3 separate regions of the Homo sapiens genome follow, and regions 1 and 3 are each linked to region 2. Evidence: fine-mapped expression QTL. A gene starts in region 2. Each other region holds a variant in brackets. All regions are shown on one strand. Distances are from middle to middle.

Region 1 (5,000 bases), 270 kb before region 2:
TAACATCTACAGCTGATCTACTCCCTCCAGTCCCCATCCTCATAAGTAATTAATCTTTCCTTATACACAAGTTTGAATAATATCCCTTAAGAAAAAAAGAAAGAAAGAAAATAAAAATAATTTATGACTGTTGTAGTTCTCTAAAGTGCATGGGGATGAGAGAAATGAAATTAACATCCTTTGAGCACCTCCTTGCGCCTTTTTCATTCATTCACCAAGCATTAGTTGAATGTCTACCATGTGTCAGGCACTCTTCAGGGAGCTCACTGTCCAGAATAAACAACATGTGTTATCAAATGATGATTAGTCAGCGAGAGGAGTGCTAGGATTGGACATGAGGTAGAGGTGGGTGTTATACAGAGAAGAGAAGCAATGGCCACATGTAGGCAGGGAGGCCTCCTGGAGGAAGTGAGACCCTGAGCTAAATCTTAAAGGATGTACAAGAAGCAACCAGGCACAGGGGTAAGAGGAGGTGATGGGAATTCCTGGGGGTAGAGATAGCATAGCAGGAACAAAGGCACCAAGGTGAGAGAAACCACCCAGTTTGGGGAGGGGAAGGTATGGGGGTGTGGGCTGCTGTTACTGGTGGGTTGCCACTAGGAAGGCTTTCTATGACATCTCCTAGAGCTCAGAGATGATCCCTTGCAGGTGACTGGGGTGTCACTGAAGGGCTTGAGCAGAAGAATGACATGGTACCAATGGTGTTCTCAGGACTTCATATAACCCAATTTCATAGAGAAGCAATTAAGTTTGGAGACCTCAAAAACCCTTCCAATGCAGGTCACAGCTAGGACCAACCAGCCTGTGTTCCAACTCCTGGATTTCTCATTCTAAATCCCATTTTCTTTCCATTACATCACATTGCCTCCTTGGTCAGCCCATACAACATGCAGTGTCTAAAACTGACATGTCTTATGAAGCCAGGTCCTAAGCAGTTCACCTAGTTTCAAGCATGGGCTATTCGTTGCCAATTTAAAAGGGCTGTTTCTCTCCCATTCAAAACTTCACCCCAGATCACTACCAGGAGCTCAGTTTAAGAAGGTACTCTGTCATCTATTTACTAACCATGTTGCCTTAGACCCTTCCTTGGCCTTTAAAGGTTTAACAGTTTAAAATTTCAATTACTATTATTATTATTATTATTATTATTATTATTTTGAGACAAGATCTTGCTCTGTCACCCAGGCTGCAGTGCAGTGGTGAGATCACAGTTCACTGCAGCCCCGACCTCCTGGGCTCAGGCAATCCTCCTGTCTCAGCCTCCTGAGTAGGTGGGACTACAGGCATGTACCACCATGTCAAGCTAATTTTTAAACTTTTTGTAGAGATGGGGTCTCACTTTGTTGCCCAGGCTGGTCTTGAACTCCTGGGCTCAAGTGATCCTCCTACCTCAGCCTCTCAAAGTGGTGGGATTACAGGAGTGAGCCACCATACCTGGCCTAAAATTTCAGTTATTTTTGAGAAAACTGAAGTTTACAGCATGCAGTCGTACGGAATTGCCCAAGGCAAAGATTTGAACTGAGAAACATATATAAGTGGGAACCAATCTTTTAGCTGGAAAATGGGTCCAACTGGCCACTGTTCCATCTCAATTAGGAGACTTGAAAACATAGAATATGGAAAAGTATAGGTCCCTGGTGTCTTTGAGAATTCTCTGGACTTAAGGAGCCACAGTTTCTCCATGACACCTACTCACACAGAGTCTCTGTGCACACAAATGAGCTGCTATAGTACAAATGAGCTATGCAAATGTGCAGTGCTAGGCTCTGGGACTGGCTGACCAGGTTGGCTGCAGCTTCAGGGATGCTTGGCGTCCCCAAGCAGGAAGGCACTCGCTATTTGGAGGTGGTACAATTCCTTACTCAAGACAGTTTTTTGCCTTGAGCATTGCCTGCTGTTAGAACTGCCACACCACTCCCCACCTCCCCAGTCATGCCAAGGATTAAGAATTTATTTCCTTGTGACGCTCCTCAGTCTGAGGCTGCTGATCCCAAGCTGTCCACCGCAGAGAGCAGTGCGTGGCTAAAACCAGGGCCAGGAATTTATATTCACCCTTTCACACTTCTTGGCTTTCCACAGAAGAGAGTCTCCTTTTCATGTCCTCTTAAAATCCATTTCAGCATAGGGAAGGGAGGCAGATAACATTTTGTGGGCTGGGGCTGAGGCATGAAACCCCTATGGGAGGCATTCACTCTCATATCCATGATCTCATGACAGCCTCACAACCACTGGGGACGTGGGGAAAGATACACCTGTCTTTCACAGGGATGAGGGAGTCAGAAGAGTCCTTGGACTCAAACATCTTGACTGAACACGCCAGGTCATAATCTCTTATCAACTCTAAACTCCACCCCCCATCCTTAGGTTAAATGTCTACTGACAGTTCAGAACCTTAAACTTAGCCCAAGTGGTAATTGCTACCTGTGTATATTAATGAACACAACATGTACCAGGTGTAGCTCATACTTCAAGAGGGGTAAAAGATGACCATCTGAATTCCTGCTCATTAAATAACAGCTCAATGGCTAATATATAAAAGTAAGTAAAAAAAA[A/T]AAATAAATAAAAGATAGCTATTAATAACAACTTTTTAAAAACTTTTTTTAAATTTTAATTTTTTATAGAGACGAGTCTTGCTATGTTGCCCAGGCTGGTCTTGAACTCCTGGCCTCAAGTGATCCTCCCACATCCTTCCCAGTCCCCAAAGTATTGAGATGACAGGCATGAGCCACCATGCCTGGCCAGATATAAATTATAATAACAACAATACCTCCACTTTTTAAGCATTTCCTGTGGGTGGGGCACTGAGCTGCACAATCTGTAATCTTTACTGTGCCTTATCTTTACCACCATCATGGAGAATAGGTGCTACTGACCCCAGTTTACAGATGATGAAGTAAAGTGTCACAGGTTTTGTTCGGTTTGTGCAAGGAGGATGGGATCCACGACCAGCTCTGTCATCTCTCAACCTACCTAGGAGGAAAGAGTAACGAGGTGCCAGCAAAGGTGAAAATAAGAGACATTTAATACATCGTGCCCATGACATTAATCTCAGGAAGCTTTCTGAAAGAGGAGAGGTTTTGCAGCACCAGCTTTTTCTTTTTTCCCCCCTTTGAGCAGAGTCTTCTTGCTCTGTTGCTCAGGCTGGAGTGCAGTGGCATGATCTCAGCTCACTAAAACCTCTGCCTCCTGGGTTCAAGTGATTCTTGTGCCTCAGACTCCCAAGTAGGTGGGACTACAGGTGTGTGCCACCATGCTCAGTTAATTTTTGTATTTTTAGTAGAGATGGGGTTTCATCATGTTGGTCAGGCTGGTCTTGAACTCCTGGCCTCAAGTGATACACCTGCCTCGGCCTCCCAAAGTGTTGGGATTATAGGCGTGAGCCATCGTGCCTGGCCAGCACCAGCTTTTATACACAGCAATACCCACTTCCAAAACTCTTCTCAGAGAAATGCAATTCCAAGACACATGGGCCTAAATTCTCTGGTTCAAAACAAAACGTTTTTGAAAATGCTAAATAAAGGGCTACCTGAGTACAGTGGCAGGGAGGGGGTGCAGGGGGAAAAGAGGGGATTAACAATAAAAGAGCCAGCAGCAACAGTGAACTCAGATGGATAAATGGGTCCAGAAGAGTCACACACAGGCCCAATGGTGATGGGGAAGCCTGAGGTCATTATCTTACCATTAACTACCTTTCGCCAGGCTCTAAGCCAATGGGACTGGTTAAGTGGAATGGAGCCAGGAAGTATGGACAGCAGCCCGAGAAGACCAGGATAGGGGTGGGCAGCGCAGTGTGTCTGTTCTAAGGGTGTCAGCTCCCCACCTAGGACAATCTGAGTCCCAGGAGGCTGGCTGTGGAGGGAGCACTTCTTCCCTACATGCCCCTCTTTCCTTCTTTTTCTTAACTTCCACTCCTGCTGCCTAGAGGAAGGCTTCCCTGATCCCTGGAGTTTGGGAACCCTGTGCTAACTCTCTATTGCTCACTCTGTATTAAGTTGCCCATTTTTCTCATTTCCTTCCCCTGGATTCCGGGACACAGGACCTTGGTCCTACTTTCTGTTGACCCAACAACTACCTTAAGGGCCGGCCTACTGTAACTACTCAAAAAAAGAGTTGTTAAATGAATGTAAGGTGCTCAGTGTCCACCAATTTGCATTAAAGTGTACAGGGGCTATGGAAGCAAGAAGATAACAAAGATAAGATGCAAGCCCTTCATTACAACAATGTCCACTTTAACAAACACATGCCCAACTCTTGATTTATGCTGGGTTCTTCCAAGAATGAGTTCATTCCTATGCTTACACCAAGCCCAATTTACTTGGGGAATGAAAAATCGTGTTATTTATTTAGTCTTCCTTTTGTACATTTTAAAATCCCTTCTCTGTTTTTATTTCTACAGGTCTGGCAGCTTGTTAAAAATGTCATTTTCTCCCTGCACGCTGATGAGGGTAGAAAATTTGTGTTTCACCAGCCCTGACAAATAGCATTATTTGTAAATCAAGTTAAATGCATGCACAGTGCGGTTCAAACTGAACCTTCTCCTGGCCTTCCTCCATGTCTGAACTGAAGAATAAAAAGCTGTAGAACCTCCTCATGGCTTCTGCAATGACAAACCCTGCACCAGTCCAAAAAGCAATGACTCCCTCCCTCTGCACAGAAAACTGAGCTCGAACCAATGTCTGACCACTTCCCTTCTTGATCCAAGATATCCTTTCCAGCAAGGCCAGCCTGGATCAGGCCTCGGATTAGGAGGATGTTTGGCATTCCTACTGTTCTCACCCCCAGGGCAGGCACTGTGCAGAGTCTGTCCCGTGACCTGCATTCTTGTCAGTGTTTAATCCTTTTGTCTGGCCCCTGCACTTAAGTGGTTATAAAATATCTTGAGAATCCAATGACAGTTTGTGGAATGTCAGCTGATGCCACCAACCTCACCTTCCCATTTTCTCTCCCACTGTTGCATCACTAGCCTCTGCCTTGTGACTTTGACAGTCAGGGCTGCCACC
Region 2 (5,308 bases):
CAATCAAACCTTTCATTTCAAGGCCAGTTTCCCACCATACCCCTTCCTGTTCCAATCAGGTTTGCGAAACATTTCCCCTATTCTGCATTTCATGAATCAATTGCAAAATCTGCCAACCTCTGCCAGTTCCTCTTGTACTCAGCTGAGAGGTTCCCCTTCCTTCCCTGGGTAGCACAAGGCTGCTCTGGTTTTTAACTGGCGTAACGTGGAAATGCACTGTAGGAACTCACTAACTCTTTCACAGCCAGATGTAAGTGAGAGTCTGGGCGGCAACCCCACCTACTAGGAAACTGGTCCACCAAGCTCAGGATAAAGCAGATTTGTGGAATTTAGCTTTGACTCCAAATCCCGTGTCAGTTACTGTCACGGGGAAGGAAAAAGGAAGAGTGAAAAGGTCTACAAAGTAACCAATTCAGTTACTTAGCAACTGGACAAAACTTGCCTCACTACAGAGGGTAAGGAGGCATCTCACACCCATTCAAAGAGTAACAGTCTACAATTTACATGCAAATAGATAAAGAAAAAAGGGAACGGGAAATCTAAATTAGCAACTGGAGTTTAGACAGTGAGACTGAGGCCCACATTTAAAAAAAAAAAAAAAGTTTATCCTAGGAAAGAGACAGGACATGTACAGAAATGAATGAATTAATAAATGAATGAATGAATGAATGCATGCATGCATGCATGCATGCAAAGCCACAGGCCCAACAAGTTTACAGTCTCCCTTCATAAAAGTCAATGCCACGGGGGAGAGAGGAAAGGGCCACACAAAGTTCGATACAATTTAAACATTTCCACGGCTAACATGAATTACAGGCTTACAGAAAATGTGAAGTTGGGAAAACTCCTGGGAAAGTAGGTACCCCCGCTCATGAGAAAAGCAAACAAAAGCATCACTCTTGGTGGAAGGTCTCTGGACTTTGGGTAGATCACAGCCTCTCCGGGTCTCTAGATACCCTCAGAAACACCCTCCAGTACCCATGCCTGAAATGCAGTTACTAAACTTGGATCTAACCCCGACTCTTAACAGGAGACACGCCGCCCTGCAGGTTTCCTAAGCAAGAGGGAGATACTGTCACCTACTTGGCTCGAGAAGGTGCTCCAGGCTTTTCAGTTTGCCCGAGGAGCTCCAACTCTCTGTCCCCAGCCTCTAGCTGCACACCCGAACCGGATTTGCTCAGTTCCAGGCTCAAAGGGGAAAGAGGACTGAGGGCTCATCCGCCCTCACCCCATCCCCCAACTTCACACCTGGACCAAGGCCGGCAGAGCCCAAGGCTGACTCCCAAAGACACGCCAGCCCAGACACTTACTTCTCATACTCGGTGTTGTCTCTGTCACAGCGAGAATCCTTGTGCTTTTGCCAGTCTTTGCCATGCTTGCAGGTGGTGAGGAGCACAACGTCCTCCCCGTTATGGACGTGATATAAGGCATTCCTGGTGTCTGATCCTATCCCTGTCAGGTACCTCTTCCCCTTGAATACCAGCATGTACTTCCTGAGAGGAGGGATGGTGTTGAACTTCAAAAACCCCCTCTCCCCTCCTGTCCTGGGATGATCCTTAGAAAAGAGGGGAATAGAAACATCAAAGTTGGGTCGGAAGTTTTCAGTACTGATGCTGGCTTTGGCCAGCATCGCCTGGCCGATGTCAAACCCCACGTCCTCGGTGTAGTCAGGCCAAGTGCCGGAATATAAATTAAAAATTAAATGATTCCTACCATTGTTCCACAAGTGGAGACTCTGCACTTTGGATCTCAAATTGTGCACATACTGAGGTGACAACTGGTCTCTGTCTAAAGTATCCAGACTCAGGACAAAGAGGCACGCCTGGCTGGGGTCCGAGGTGTAGAACCTGGAGCCCTCGATGGCCGCTAGAATGTTTTGGTAACTTTCGGCGATTTTCTCCCCTTTTTGCTGTGGGTATACGTAGACTTTGAAGCCGTTTTTCTTGCAAAGGGTGAAATCGAAGCAGGACTCCATGCGGCACTTCTTGCCTTTGTAGATGCTGGAGTTGGCATCTCGCTTCTGCCGGGGGGAAATGTGCACGCTGGAATCCTCGTTTTCCAATTGATCCCAAGGAACGAAGGGGCGCAGAGCGTCCGGGAAGCGGGGCCAGAAATGATCCGGACTGGGGTGGTGCAAGCCATTCCTACCGCTGTGTTCTTCTCTCCGGCTGTGGCTCCTCGATGCCCTAAACTGCAAGCCTCCGAAATAAAACAAAAGGGCGAGACAAGAGCCAGCTGAGAGCAGGATGAAATAGCGTTTTTTGGCCTGCATGTGTCCTGCCTGGGTCAAGAGGATTGTAAATAAACACAAGAATCACCCAAGTTTCCCAATCAACACTTTCAGCTCCAGTCCGCCATCTTCCCGCCTGTAAAGACTTCAAACTCTCCGCTCCCACCTTCTCTGGATGCCTTTCCCCAAGCCGTGGACTGATCCAGCGCATGTGGGCGATTTCTTTAACTTTCTCCCCTTCGGTCTTTCATCTTTGGGTTGCACAATGCACGGGAGAGAGCGGGGCTGAATATCTCGCACCCAGGGCGGGCGAGCAGCGGACTGTAATTTTCTTGCATGCAACAAGACGGAGGAAAAGAAAGAGAGAGGGGAGAAAAAAAAAGCTCCCGATACCCAATCAATGGCAAGACGAAGTGATTGCCTTGCCTCTCGGATTCCTCTCGGCAGCGTGGAAAATGAGCCCCGGGAAGGCAACTTCAACTCATCCACCACTCTCCGTGCAGAGCACTCCGGTTCCAACAAGTCAGCCGATCCCGGGTTCAGCCGGCTAGTGCATCTTGCAGCTGGGGCGCCGTAACCTCACAAATCCCTGCATCTCTCTTTATTCCCTTCTGCAGCGGCTCCAAGACTCCGGCGGTGTTTACTCCTGCGCTCGCGGGGCCGGCCCCCGGGACGCGCGGCGGCCCGGCTGGAGGCGGCGGCGGCGGCGGCGCTGGGTGGCGGCGGCGGCGCGTCCTCCCCGCGGGCAGTGCCGGCCCCGAGCAGCGCTTCGCAGGCCCCCGCGCGAACGCTGCCGACCGCCGCGTTCGGTCGCCGAATGTTACCCGGTTCTGAATGTTACACTTACACATTCCATTCCCGACACGACAGCGCTGACCTCATCCATCCACGCAGCCCGCGCTGCCATTGGCCGAGCGTCACGTCCGGGGGGGGCGGTGCTTCCGCTGCGCCCATTCATAACCCCCGGCCGCGGGCCGAGGCGCCGGCGCGGCGTTGGGGGCGTAGGGGGCGCAGGGAGCCGGGGCTCCCGGGTTGCAAGCTGCCGGCGGGCTGCCGGGCAGGTGGAGCGCGGGACGGCCCGGTGCGAGCCCCGCGGCCCCTCGGCGCGCCCAGGCCCGGATCTCGGCCTGCGCCGTGCCGGGGACCAGAGGCGCCTGCGGAAACGCGGCGGCCGGGGAAGGAGGCACCGGCAGGGGCCCCGTGCCGCGCGGCCCCGGGCGCCCTGGAGAATCTGGCCTCCTGGGCTGCCTGCCGGAACGCCTAGAGAAAGATGCTTTGAAGGAGGGAAGCAGGGAGGAAAGGAAGACTTCATAGAAAGCGACCGCCGATCCGAAAGCTGCCTCTCCCAGCCCTCCTTCCACTCTCCGAGACCCAGTATTTCAATTTTCTGCTAAGCATTAAAACAATCTCCCCTTACTCCTCCTCTACATAGCACATTTTTTTAAACCAAAGAAACACCCCAATGCCCAACAATAAAGAGGAATTATTACAATCAAGAGGAATTGTTGCAATTCTTCATGCCTGCCTCTGTGCTAAGAGTGTAAGACGGCTATCCTAAATCCTCATTATCTACTTAGGCCGCCTTGCCTGAGCCCCCTCTGTCTATTATGAAGAAAGCTTCCAAGAGATCCAATCACAGAGAAAAAATAAATTTTCTAATGGCTGCAGGGAAACCAGTTAATTTAAGCTTGCCCCAGTCCTCAAAGTGATGTTATTCTCTTGGTGGTGGTGGTGGTGGTGGTGGTGTTAAAGATATCTCTTAAGGACATATGACTGGTAGAATTGCCAACTGTCCCAGCTATAGAAGGAACACTTGCATCAGGAAAACTACCTTATGTACAATTAGTGCCAAATAGTTGGTCCTTCCCTCACTGACCTCCCACTCCTTGGCCCAAGCTCCTGCCACTCCCAGTGGAAGAACTTCATTAGATAACTCAGGTAACCGAGGAGCAGTCCCGCTAAAGATCCTCCAGGTCCACAAAGATGTGCTAGGCTCCCAAACAGTATCTCTGGTCAAAGTCAAACTCCCTGGCCTCAGATCCTGAACACTGCTTTACAGAAAACACCTCCCACCCTCTGGCCTAGCTAAAGTCTCAGGGCTCGGGCAAGCTAGACAGTTGCCTAGGGCAGCCGGCTGTTTAGTGATTGTTTATTATGGGAGTGACTGAGAGCTAGGAGCAGACACTTCCCGGCTTCCCTCAGGCTGCAAAAACCCCAGCGGGGTGTGGATGAAGGGCAGGGTTATAACAAGGCAGTATGAAATGATAGAGTGGAAAGTTTCAGACCTCTGTTGTTTCAGATTTGTTTTAATAAAGCAGGGAAGGGGCATGGGTGGGACATTACTATACATTCGTGAAGCCTCTCCCTATTTCTGACCTGCCAAAGATGAGACAGCTTTTCCAGATTTGACTTGAACCCCCTGCACAATGTAGAGAGGCCTGGGACAGGAATAAGGATTCAGTCATCTTCCAAATACAGTGACAATGATGCAGATAAAGGCAGTGATTGAAACCACATGTGACCCAAAGCTCCCCCCAGCCCAAGTTGCTAAGAACAACAGTTCAAGGCAGGAGGCCTTCTCTTCTGATCAGGGTGCAGATTATCTCAGCCCTGTGAAGTGGGGCTGTGGGACTGGAGGTGCTCTCTCTCTCTCTCTCTCTCTCTCTCTCTCTCTCTCTCTCTCTCTCTCTCTATATATATATATATATATATATATATATATATGCTGGAGTGCAGTGGCAGGATCTCGGCTCACTAGAAACTCTGCCTCCCAGATTCAAGTGATTTGCCTCCCTCAGCCTCCGGAGTAGCTGGGATTACAGGTGTGCACCACCAGCCCTGGCTAATTTTTGTTTATTTTTGGTAGAGATGGGGTTTTGCTGTATTGGCAAGGCTGGTCTCGAACTCCTGACCTCAAGTGATCTGCCCACCTTGGCCTCCCAAAGTGCTGGGATTACAGCATGAGCCACCTCGCCTGGCCCCTCTATATCTTGCCAGTTGTTTTGCATGACCTTAGGGGGAGCTAGCTACCCTCCTTGCTCTTTTGTGTTCTGTTTATGTTTTGGCATGTGCTTCCTG
Region 3 (5,000 bases), 200 kb before region 2:
GTAACAAAGGGTGTGCTCACTTTGTGAAAACTGGTCAAGCTGGACATTTAAGATGTGTGAACTTTTTTTGGATATATATTATGCCTCAATTAAAAAAGCTGACTTTAAATGTGTCTTTCAAAAAAGAACTAAAAGAACATTCCATTTCTAGCTCTGAGCAAAGAAAAAAATTAAATCAAAAAGACCTATAAATATACCACTTGATCAAAGTGTACTTATAGGAACTCTGGTGAAAAGAAGCCAGAATTCCAAGTGGGAGAGACCTAGATTCAAATCTAGCTCTGTTGGCTGACCGTGGGCAAGCTGACATTCCTGAGCCTTGGTTTTTCTCTTCTGTATAATGGAGTAAAGAGTAACTTCCTTCAAGAGGCACGTAGGTACCAACAAGTATTATTCCCTTCCCCATTCCTACTCTGCTCTGAAAAATCATCAAGGTCAGAGTCCACACCAAGTCCTGTTGTTTTAATATGGTGCCTGGCACATGGGGGGCAGCTTGATAAAACTTTGTAGAAGGGGGAGGCGGAGGTTGCAGTGACCTGAAATCGTACCACTGCACTCCAGCCTGGTGACAGAGCGAGACTGTCTCAAAAAAACCAAAACAGGCCAGGCGTGGTGGCTCACGCCTGTAATCCCAGCACTTTGGGAGGCCGAGGCGGGTGGATCACGAGGTCAGGAGATCGAGATCATCCTGGCTAACACGGTGAAAGCCCGTCTGTACTAAAAACACAAAAAATTAGCCGGGCGTGGTGGCGGGCGCCTGCAGTCCCAGCTACTCGGGAGGCTGAGGCAGGACAATGGCGTGAACCCGGGAGGCGGAGCTTGCAGTGAGCCGAGATCGCGCCACTGCAGTCCAACCTGGGAGAAGAGCGAGACTCCGTCTCAAAAAAACAAAACAAAAAACACTTTGTGGAATGAAAGACCAGATTTTTACCTTCTAGGGACCTATAATCTCGAACGGAGTCAGAAGAAAAAGACCATGAAAAAAATCCATCACTTCCAAGCCCCTCCGCTTGCTGATGGCTCCCATTTCTCCCAATCACAAATAATCTCTCCCAACAGGCTGTGGTACTGAGATTTCTTTAAAAAGGCTACACTTCCTGCTATTTGCTTTTGCTTACATAAAACCAACTCTGCTTCCTCATTCTTTAGTATCCCTGATTTGCATGACTCTTGGCTTGGTATTCTATCCCTCGTATTTCTTACAGCAGTTGTTTGACCATTCCTCACCATTCAAGGTCTTATTTCACTTAACACTTTAACTTTGAACATGTGTTACTTTCACAGCATCTCTCACAAGGCAAATGCTCAAATTTAATTTTGATTGATTTAATTCTTGGAACACAAGTTCGGAACCCATCTAAATACTAGCTTATGTTAAGTCTCTACCCAACTAGTTTCATGTAAGGAGAATATACAAACCAGGAATAGCAATAATGATAATAAGACTGATGCCTGTGACAGACTAAAGTAATAGATTTATTTCCCATTCAATTTAGGAACCCTTAGAATTCTTCTAACACAGCAGTCCAGGAAGCCACTACCAATCAATCTAAGTTGCCATCAGTTGAAATCTATTAGTCATTCCCAGGAATAAATATCCTCCAGTATGACAGCTCTCCAACACCTTATGACCTCAGAAAATGTATCCCAAATCTGTCTTAACACATGCAATGTTTCCTACGAAATTCCTTAAAGCACAGAATTCATACCCTGTATCTTAAACTTCTAACACACAACTAGTATACTCAAAACCGAAAGATGATGTACATCATGAACACTTGAAAAATTCACGAATTAAAAATGTCTTACAGGGAAAGCAGTTGTCTCCTTGGGAAAGAATGGTGTATGGTTTACACCTATTTTAAGGAGAATGATGGTGGCATGAGCAGGTGTCAGATCTCAGAGCAGAAGGCAGAGGTCTTGTCATACAGGTCTTACTCCACCCCACAAACCCCATCCAATATTGCTTGACTAATTTGGAATGGCTATTACTCAACATTTGGAGAATCAGAATTCCAAGCAGAGAAAGCAAACAAGAAAAAAGGAACAGTTTGCTGTAGCATATCTCCCTCACCCCACGAAATTAAGATGGCCCAAACCATGGCTGACCATGCACATTCACTTACATACAGCCCTGACTTCTCTATAAAGGATGTAGCTTTCCTCAAGGTATCCCTTCTTCCTTTTCTCCATCCCCCAAACAATTCTCAGATCAAACAACAAAGCTGCCTCTGCAAAGTCTACTAATATCCTGATTATTCTCCAAACATAAAAAGGTGAAAATGAATTGTTAGTCTTTTAATAACGAATGCAATCAGTCCATCTAAGAGTTTAGCAATTTTCCCTAACAACATACTTCTCTCCACCCTCACCCTTACTTTTCTGAGCTTTCAAACACTGTGAAACATTTGCTCTAGGTACCTAGCATCAGAGCCTTGCACAAAGGGTTGGAGAGAACAATCGACAAAGCCTCTATCTGTTTCATCATGATGGTTCCCCTTACTAATAGGAAGTGTGCTTCCTGTCCATCCTTTGACTTTTGCTGTCAGTGGGAACCCTATTGCCTTAAAATAACATTCTGAATTCACCTGCTTACTGTTGAGCACGCTA[A/G]CACTTTCAGTAGTGACACTTAAAAATGGAAAGTTCCATTAATTGTTAATAATGGAAAATGAGATACTCTGAATTAGGAATATGCTCTCACTTTGCTGTTTATTATAGCTATCAGTTCTGCCATATTATATATGAATTCATAAATTATGCTGTGAGATTTACTCTCATACCACATTGAACTTGGTAAGAATCTATTCTAGGTCTTCCTGATTAAATTCACATTTAAAAAAAAAATTAATGGGTAAGTATTTATCCACTATTAGGAAACTCTCACTTTTTGAAGCGATCTATAAAGTCTAGTAATCAGCCTGTGAGCAAGTTCAGGTATTTATAAGCCTATAAAATACACCTGCCACATGTGGGTTTTTACACTTGAACAGTAAGATGGCATTGGCTCTGCAATATTTTTGAAAAAGCCAAATACCTACCTCTTCATCACTTGTAAAATTAAAGGGCAATCGTAAACATCGGATACATTTCTATTTCTTAAATAGGATCTAAAGTTTAAAGAAACAGCTTTCTGGCTCATTTTAGCCAAACATTAAAGTTTCACTAATTTAGGTAACATTCATTTGGTATCCAAAAATGAGCATAAATACTGTGTGCTGGAAAAAAACTCTTTAAGCAAACAAATGCTATCAGTAATACAGGATTAAGGGGGATGATATATGTTCCCTCAAAAGAATTATTTCCCAAAACTGCATTTACAAAGAATAAATGAAACTTAAAACTATTCTGTATCTCTTACAAATCAGTCTCTTAAAAACTCATTTTACAATAGGGTCAGACAATGATAAAAACTTAGAACTGCTGGTCATGGTGTCTCATGCCTGTAATCACAGCACTTTGGGAGGCTGAGGCAGGAAGATCACCTGAGGTCAGGAGTTCAAGACCAGCCTGGGCAACATGGTGAAACCCCACCTCTACTAAAAATACAAAAATTAGCTAGGCATGGTGGTGTATGCCTGTAGTCCCAGCTACTCAGGAGGCTGAGGCAGGAGAATCACTTGAACTCGGGAGGCAGAGGTTGCAGTGAGCCAAGATCGTGTCACTGCACTCCAGCCCGGGCAACAGAGCGAGACACCATCTCAAAACAAAAACAAAAACAAAAAAAACCAACAAAAAACAAAAACAAAACACACACACACAAAACAACTTGGAACTAGCTGGGTAAAGAATATAGTGGCCTAAGGAAATCGTTATTAGCCCCAATTTATAAACAATTAAATTGATGACAGAAAGAGGAGCAGGTGGCTTCTTGCATTCAAAGTGGAACAAACTTGAGGCTTAAAAATTCCAGGCGGCTGGGTGCGGTGGTTCACGCCTATAATCCGACCGTTTTGGGAGGCTGAGGAGGGCAGATCGCTTGAGCCCAGGAGTTCAAAACCAGCCTGGGCAACATGGTGAAACCTCGAAACCTCATCTCTACTAAAAATACAAAAATTAGCTGGGCGTGGTTGTACGCGCCTGTAATCCCAGCTACTCGGAAGGCTGAGGCAGGAGAATTGCTTGAACCCAGGAGGCAGAGGTTGAAGTGAACCGAGATCGGGCCGTTGGACTCCAGCCTGGTCGACAGAGCGAGACTCTGTCTCAAAAAAAAAAGAGAAAAGCTGCTATAGATGAATAACTTGGTGTCATGGCTAAAAAAGAACAATAATTGCAACCTATTCTAAACTAAGAGTAAGACATTGAGAAATGCCAAATCAGGCCCTTCAGTTGCAATTGGAAATTTAAAACTATGTTTTTCATTTACAAGAAAGAAAATTCACTTCTAGCATGTTATCTTTATCATCATATTAGGCCATATTGTAGATGAGAACACTGGAGTTTAAAGAGATCAAATAGTATGTAATAAAAGGAGAACCAACATCTTTTAAAAACTGTAAATGTATGTGATCCTGTTTGTGGACCAGCAGAGATTATGCTAGTTTGATTTAGTGAACTGTGTGAATAATGAATAAATTCAAAAAATATGTATTTTTTTGTTCCCATGTTTTTTATATTTATTTCAAGTTTACAATACAAGCAGATTTAAGCTGAGCAAGGGTTCCTTGAGAAGGAGGGCCCGACATGGATCTGAAAGCTGGTGCTATTAATAGTTTGAAAAGAAACAAAATCATAGTTGGATGGTACATGCATTTGCCATCATTTATTGTCATCATTCATTGCCACCATTTCCCAGTTCATTTCCTGGAAATCCTGCTGCAGAAAAGGTTGTAAATTAATTTTTTTTTATTTTTATTTTTTAGATGGAGTCTCGCTCTGTCACCCAGATGGGAGTACAATGGTGCAATCTCAGCTCACTGCAACCTCCGCCTCCCAGGTTCAAGCGATTCTCCTGCCTCAGCCTCCCAAGTAGCTGGGATTACTGTTGTGCACTGCCATGCCCA

Alleles and levels. Positions count from the first base shown, and alleles are read on the strand shown. Sizes are in standard deviations (SD) of each study's normalised expression. Not every link is listed here.
With allele G in place of A in region 3, the expression in tibial nerve of the gene that starts at base 3,052 in region 2 is lower (small effect, 0.19 SD a copy in GTEx).

The links. PIP is the estimated chance that this variant, and not a neighbour inherited with it, causes the effect.
Region 1: its variant is the best candidate, but not a certain one, in a credible set for the expression of EXT1 in monocytes (TOPMed, PIP 0.79).
Region 3: its variant is the best candidate, but not a certain one, in a credible set for the expression of EXT1 in tibial nerve (GTEx, PIP 0.75).

Annotation. Positions count from the first base shown.
Region 1 is chr8:117,843,013-117,848,012 of GRCh38, forward strand. The region is part of intron 1 of EXT1 (exostosin glycosyltransferase 1); the gene reads right to left. Among named protein-coding and RNA genes, the nearest start is that of SNORD168, 75 kb to the right of the region's middle. The variant A/T (reference allele first, on the strand shown) is at 2,553.
Region 2 is chr8:118,108,775-118,114,082 of GRCh38, forward strand. It overlaps EXT1 (exostosin glycosyltransferase 1), which reads right to left and starts at 3,052. Exons shown (of 11, transcript NM_000127.3): 1 at 1,311-3,052. The coding sequence starts at 2,272. RefSeq lists silencers at 2,905-2,994, 3,095-3,474.
Region 3 is chr8:117,904,930-117,909,929 of GRCh38, forward strand. All of the region lies in intron 1 of EXT1 (exostosin glycosyltransferase 1), which reads right to left. Among named protein-coding and RNA genes, the nearest start is that of SNORD168, 13 kb to the right of the region's middle. The variant A/G (reference allele first, on the strand shown) is at 2,611.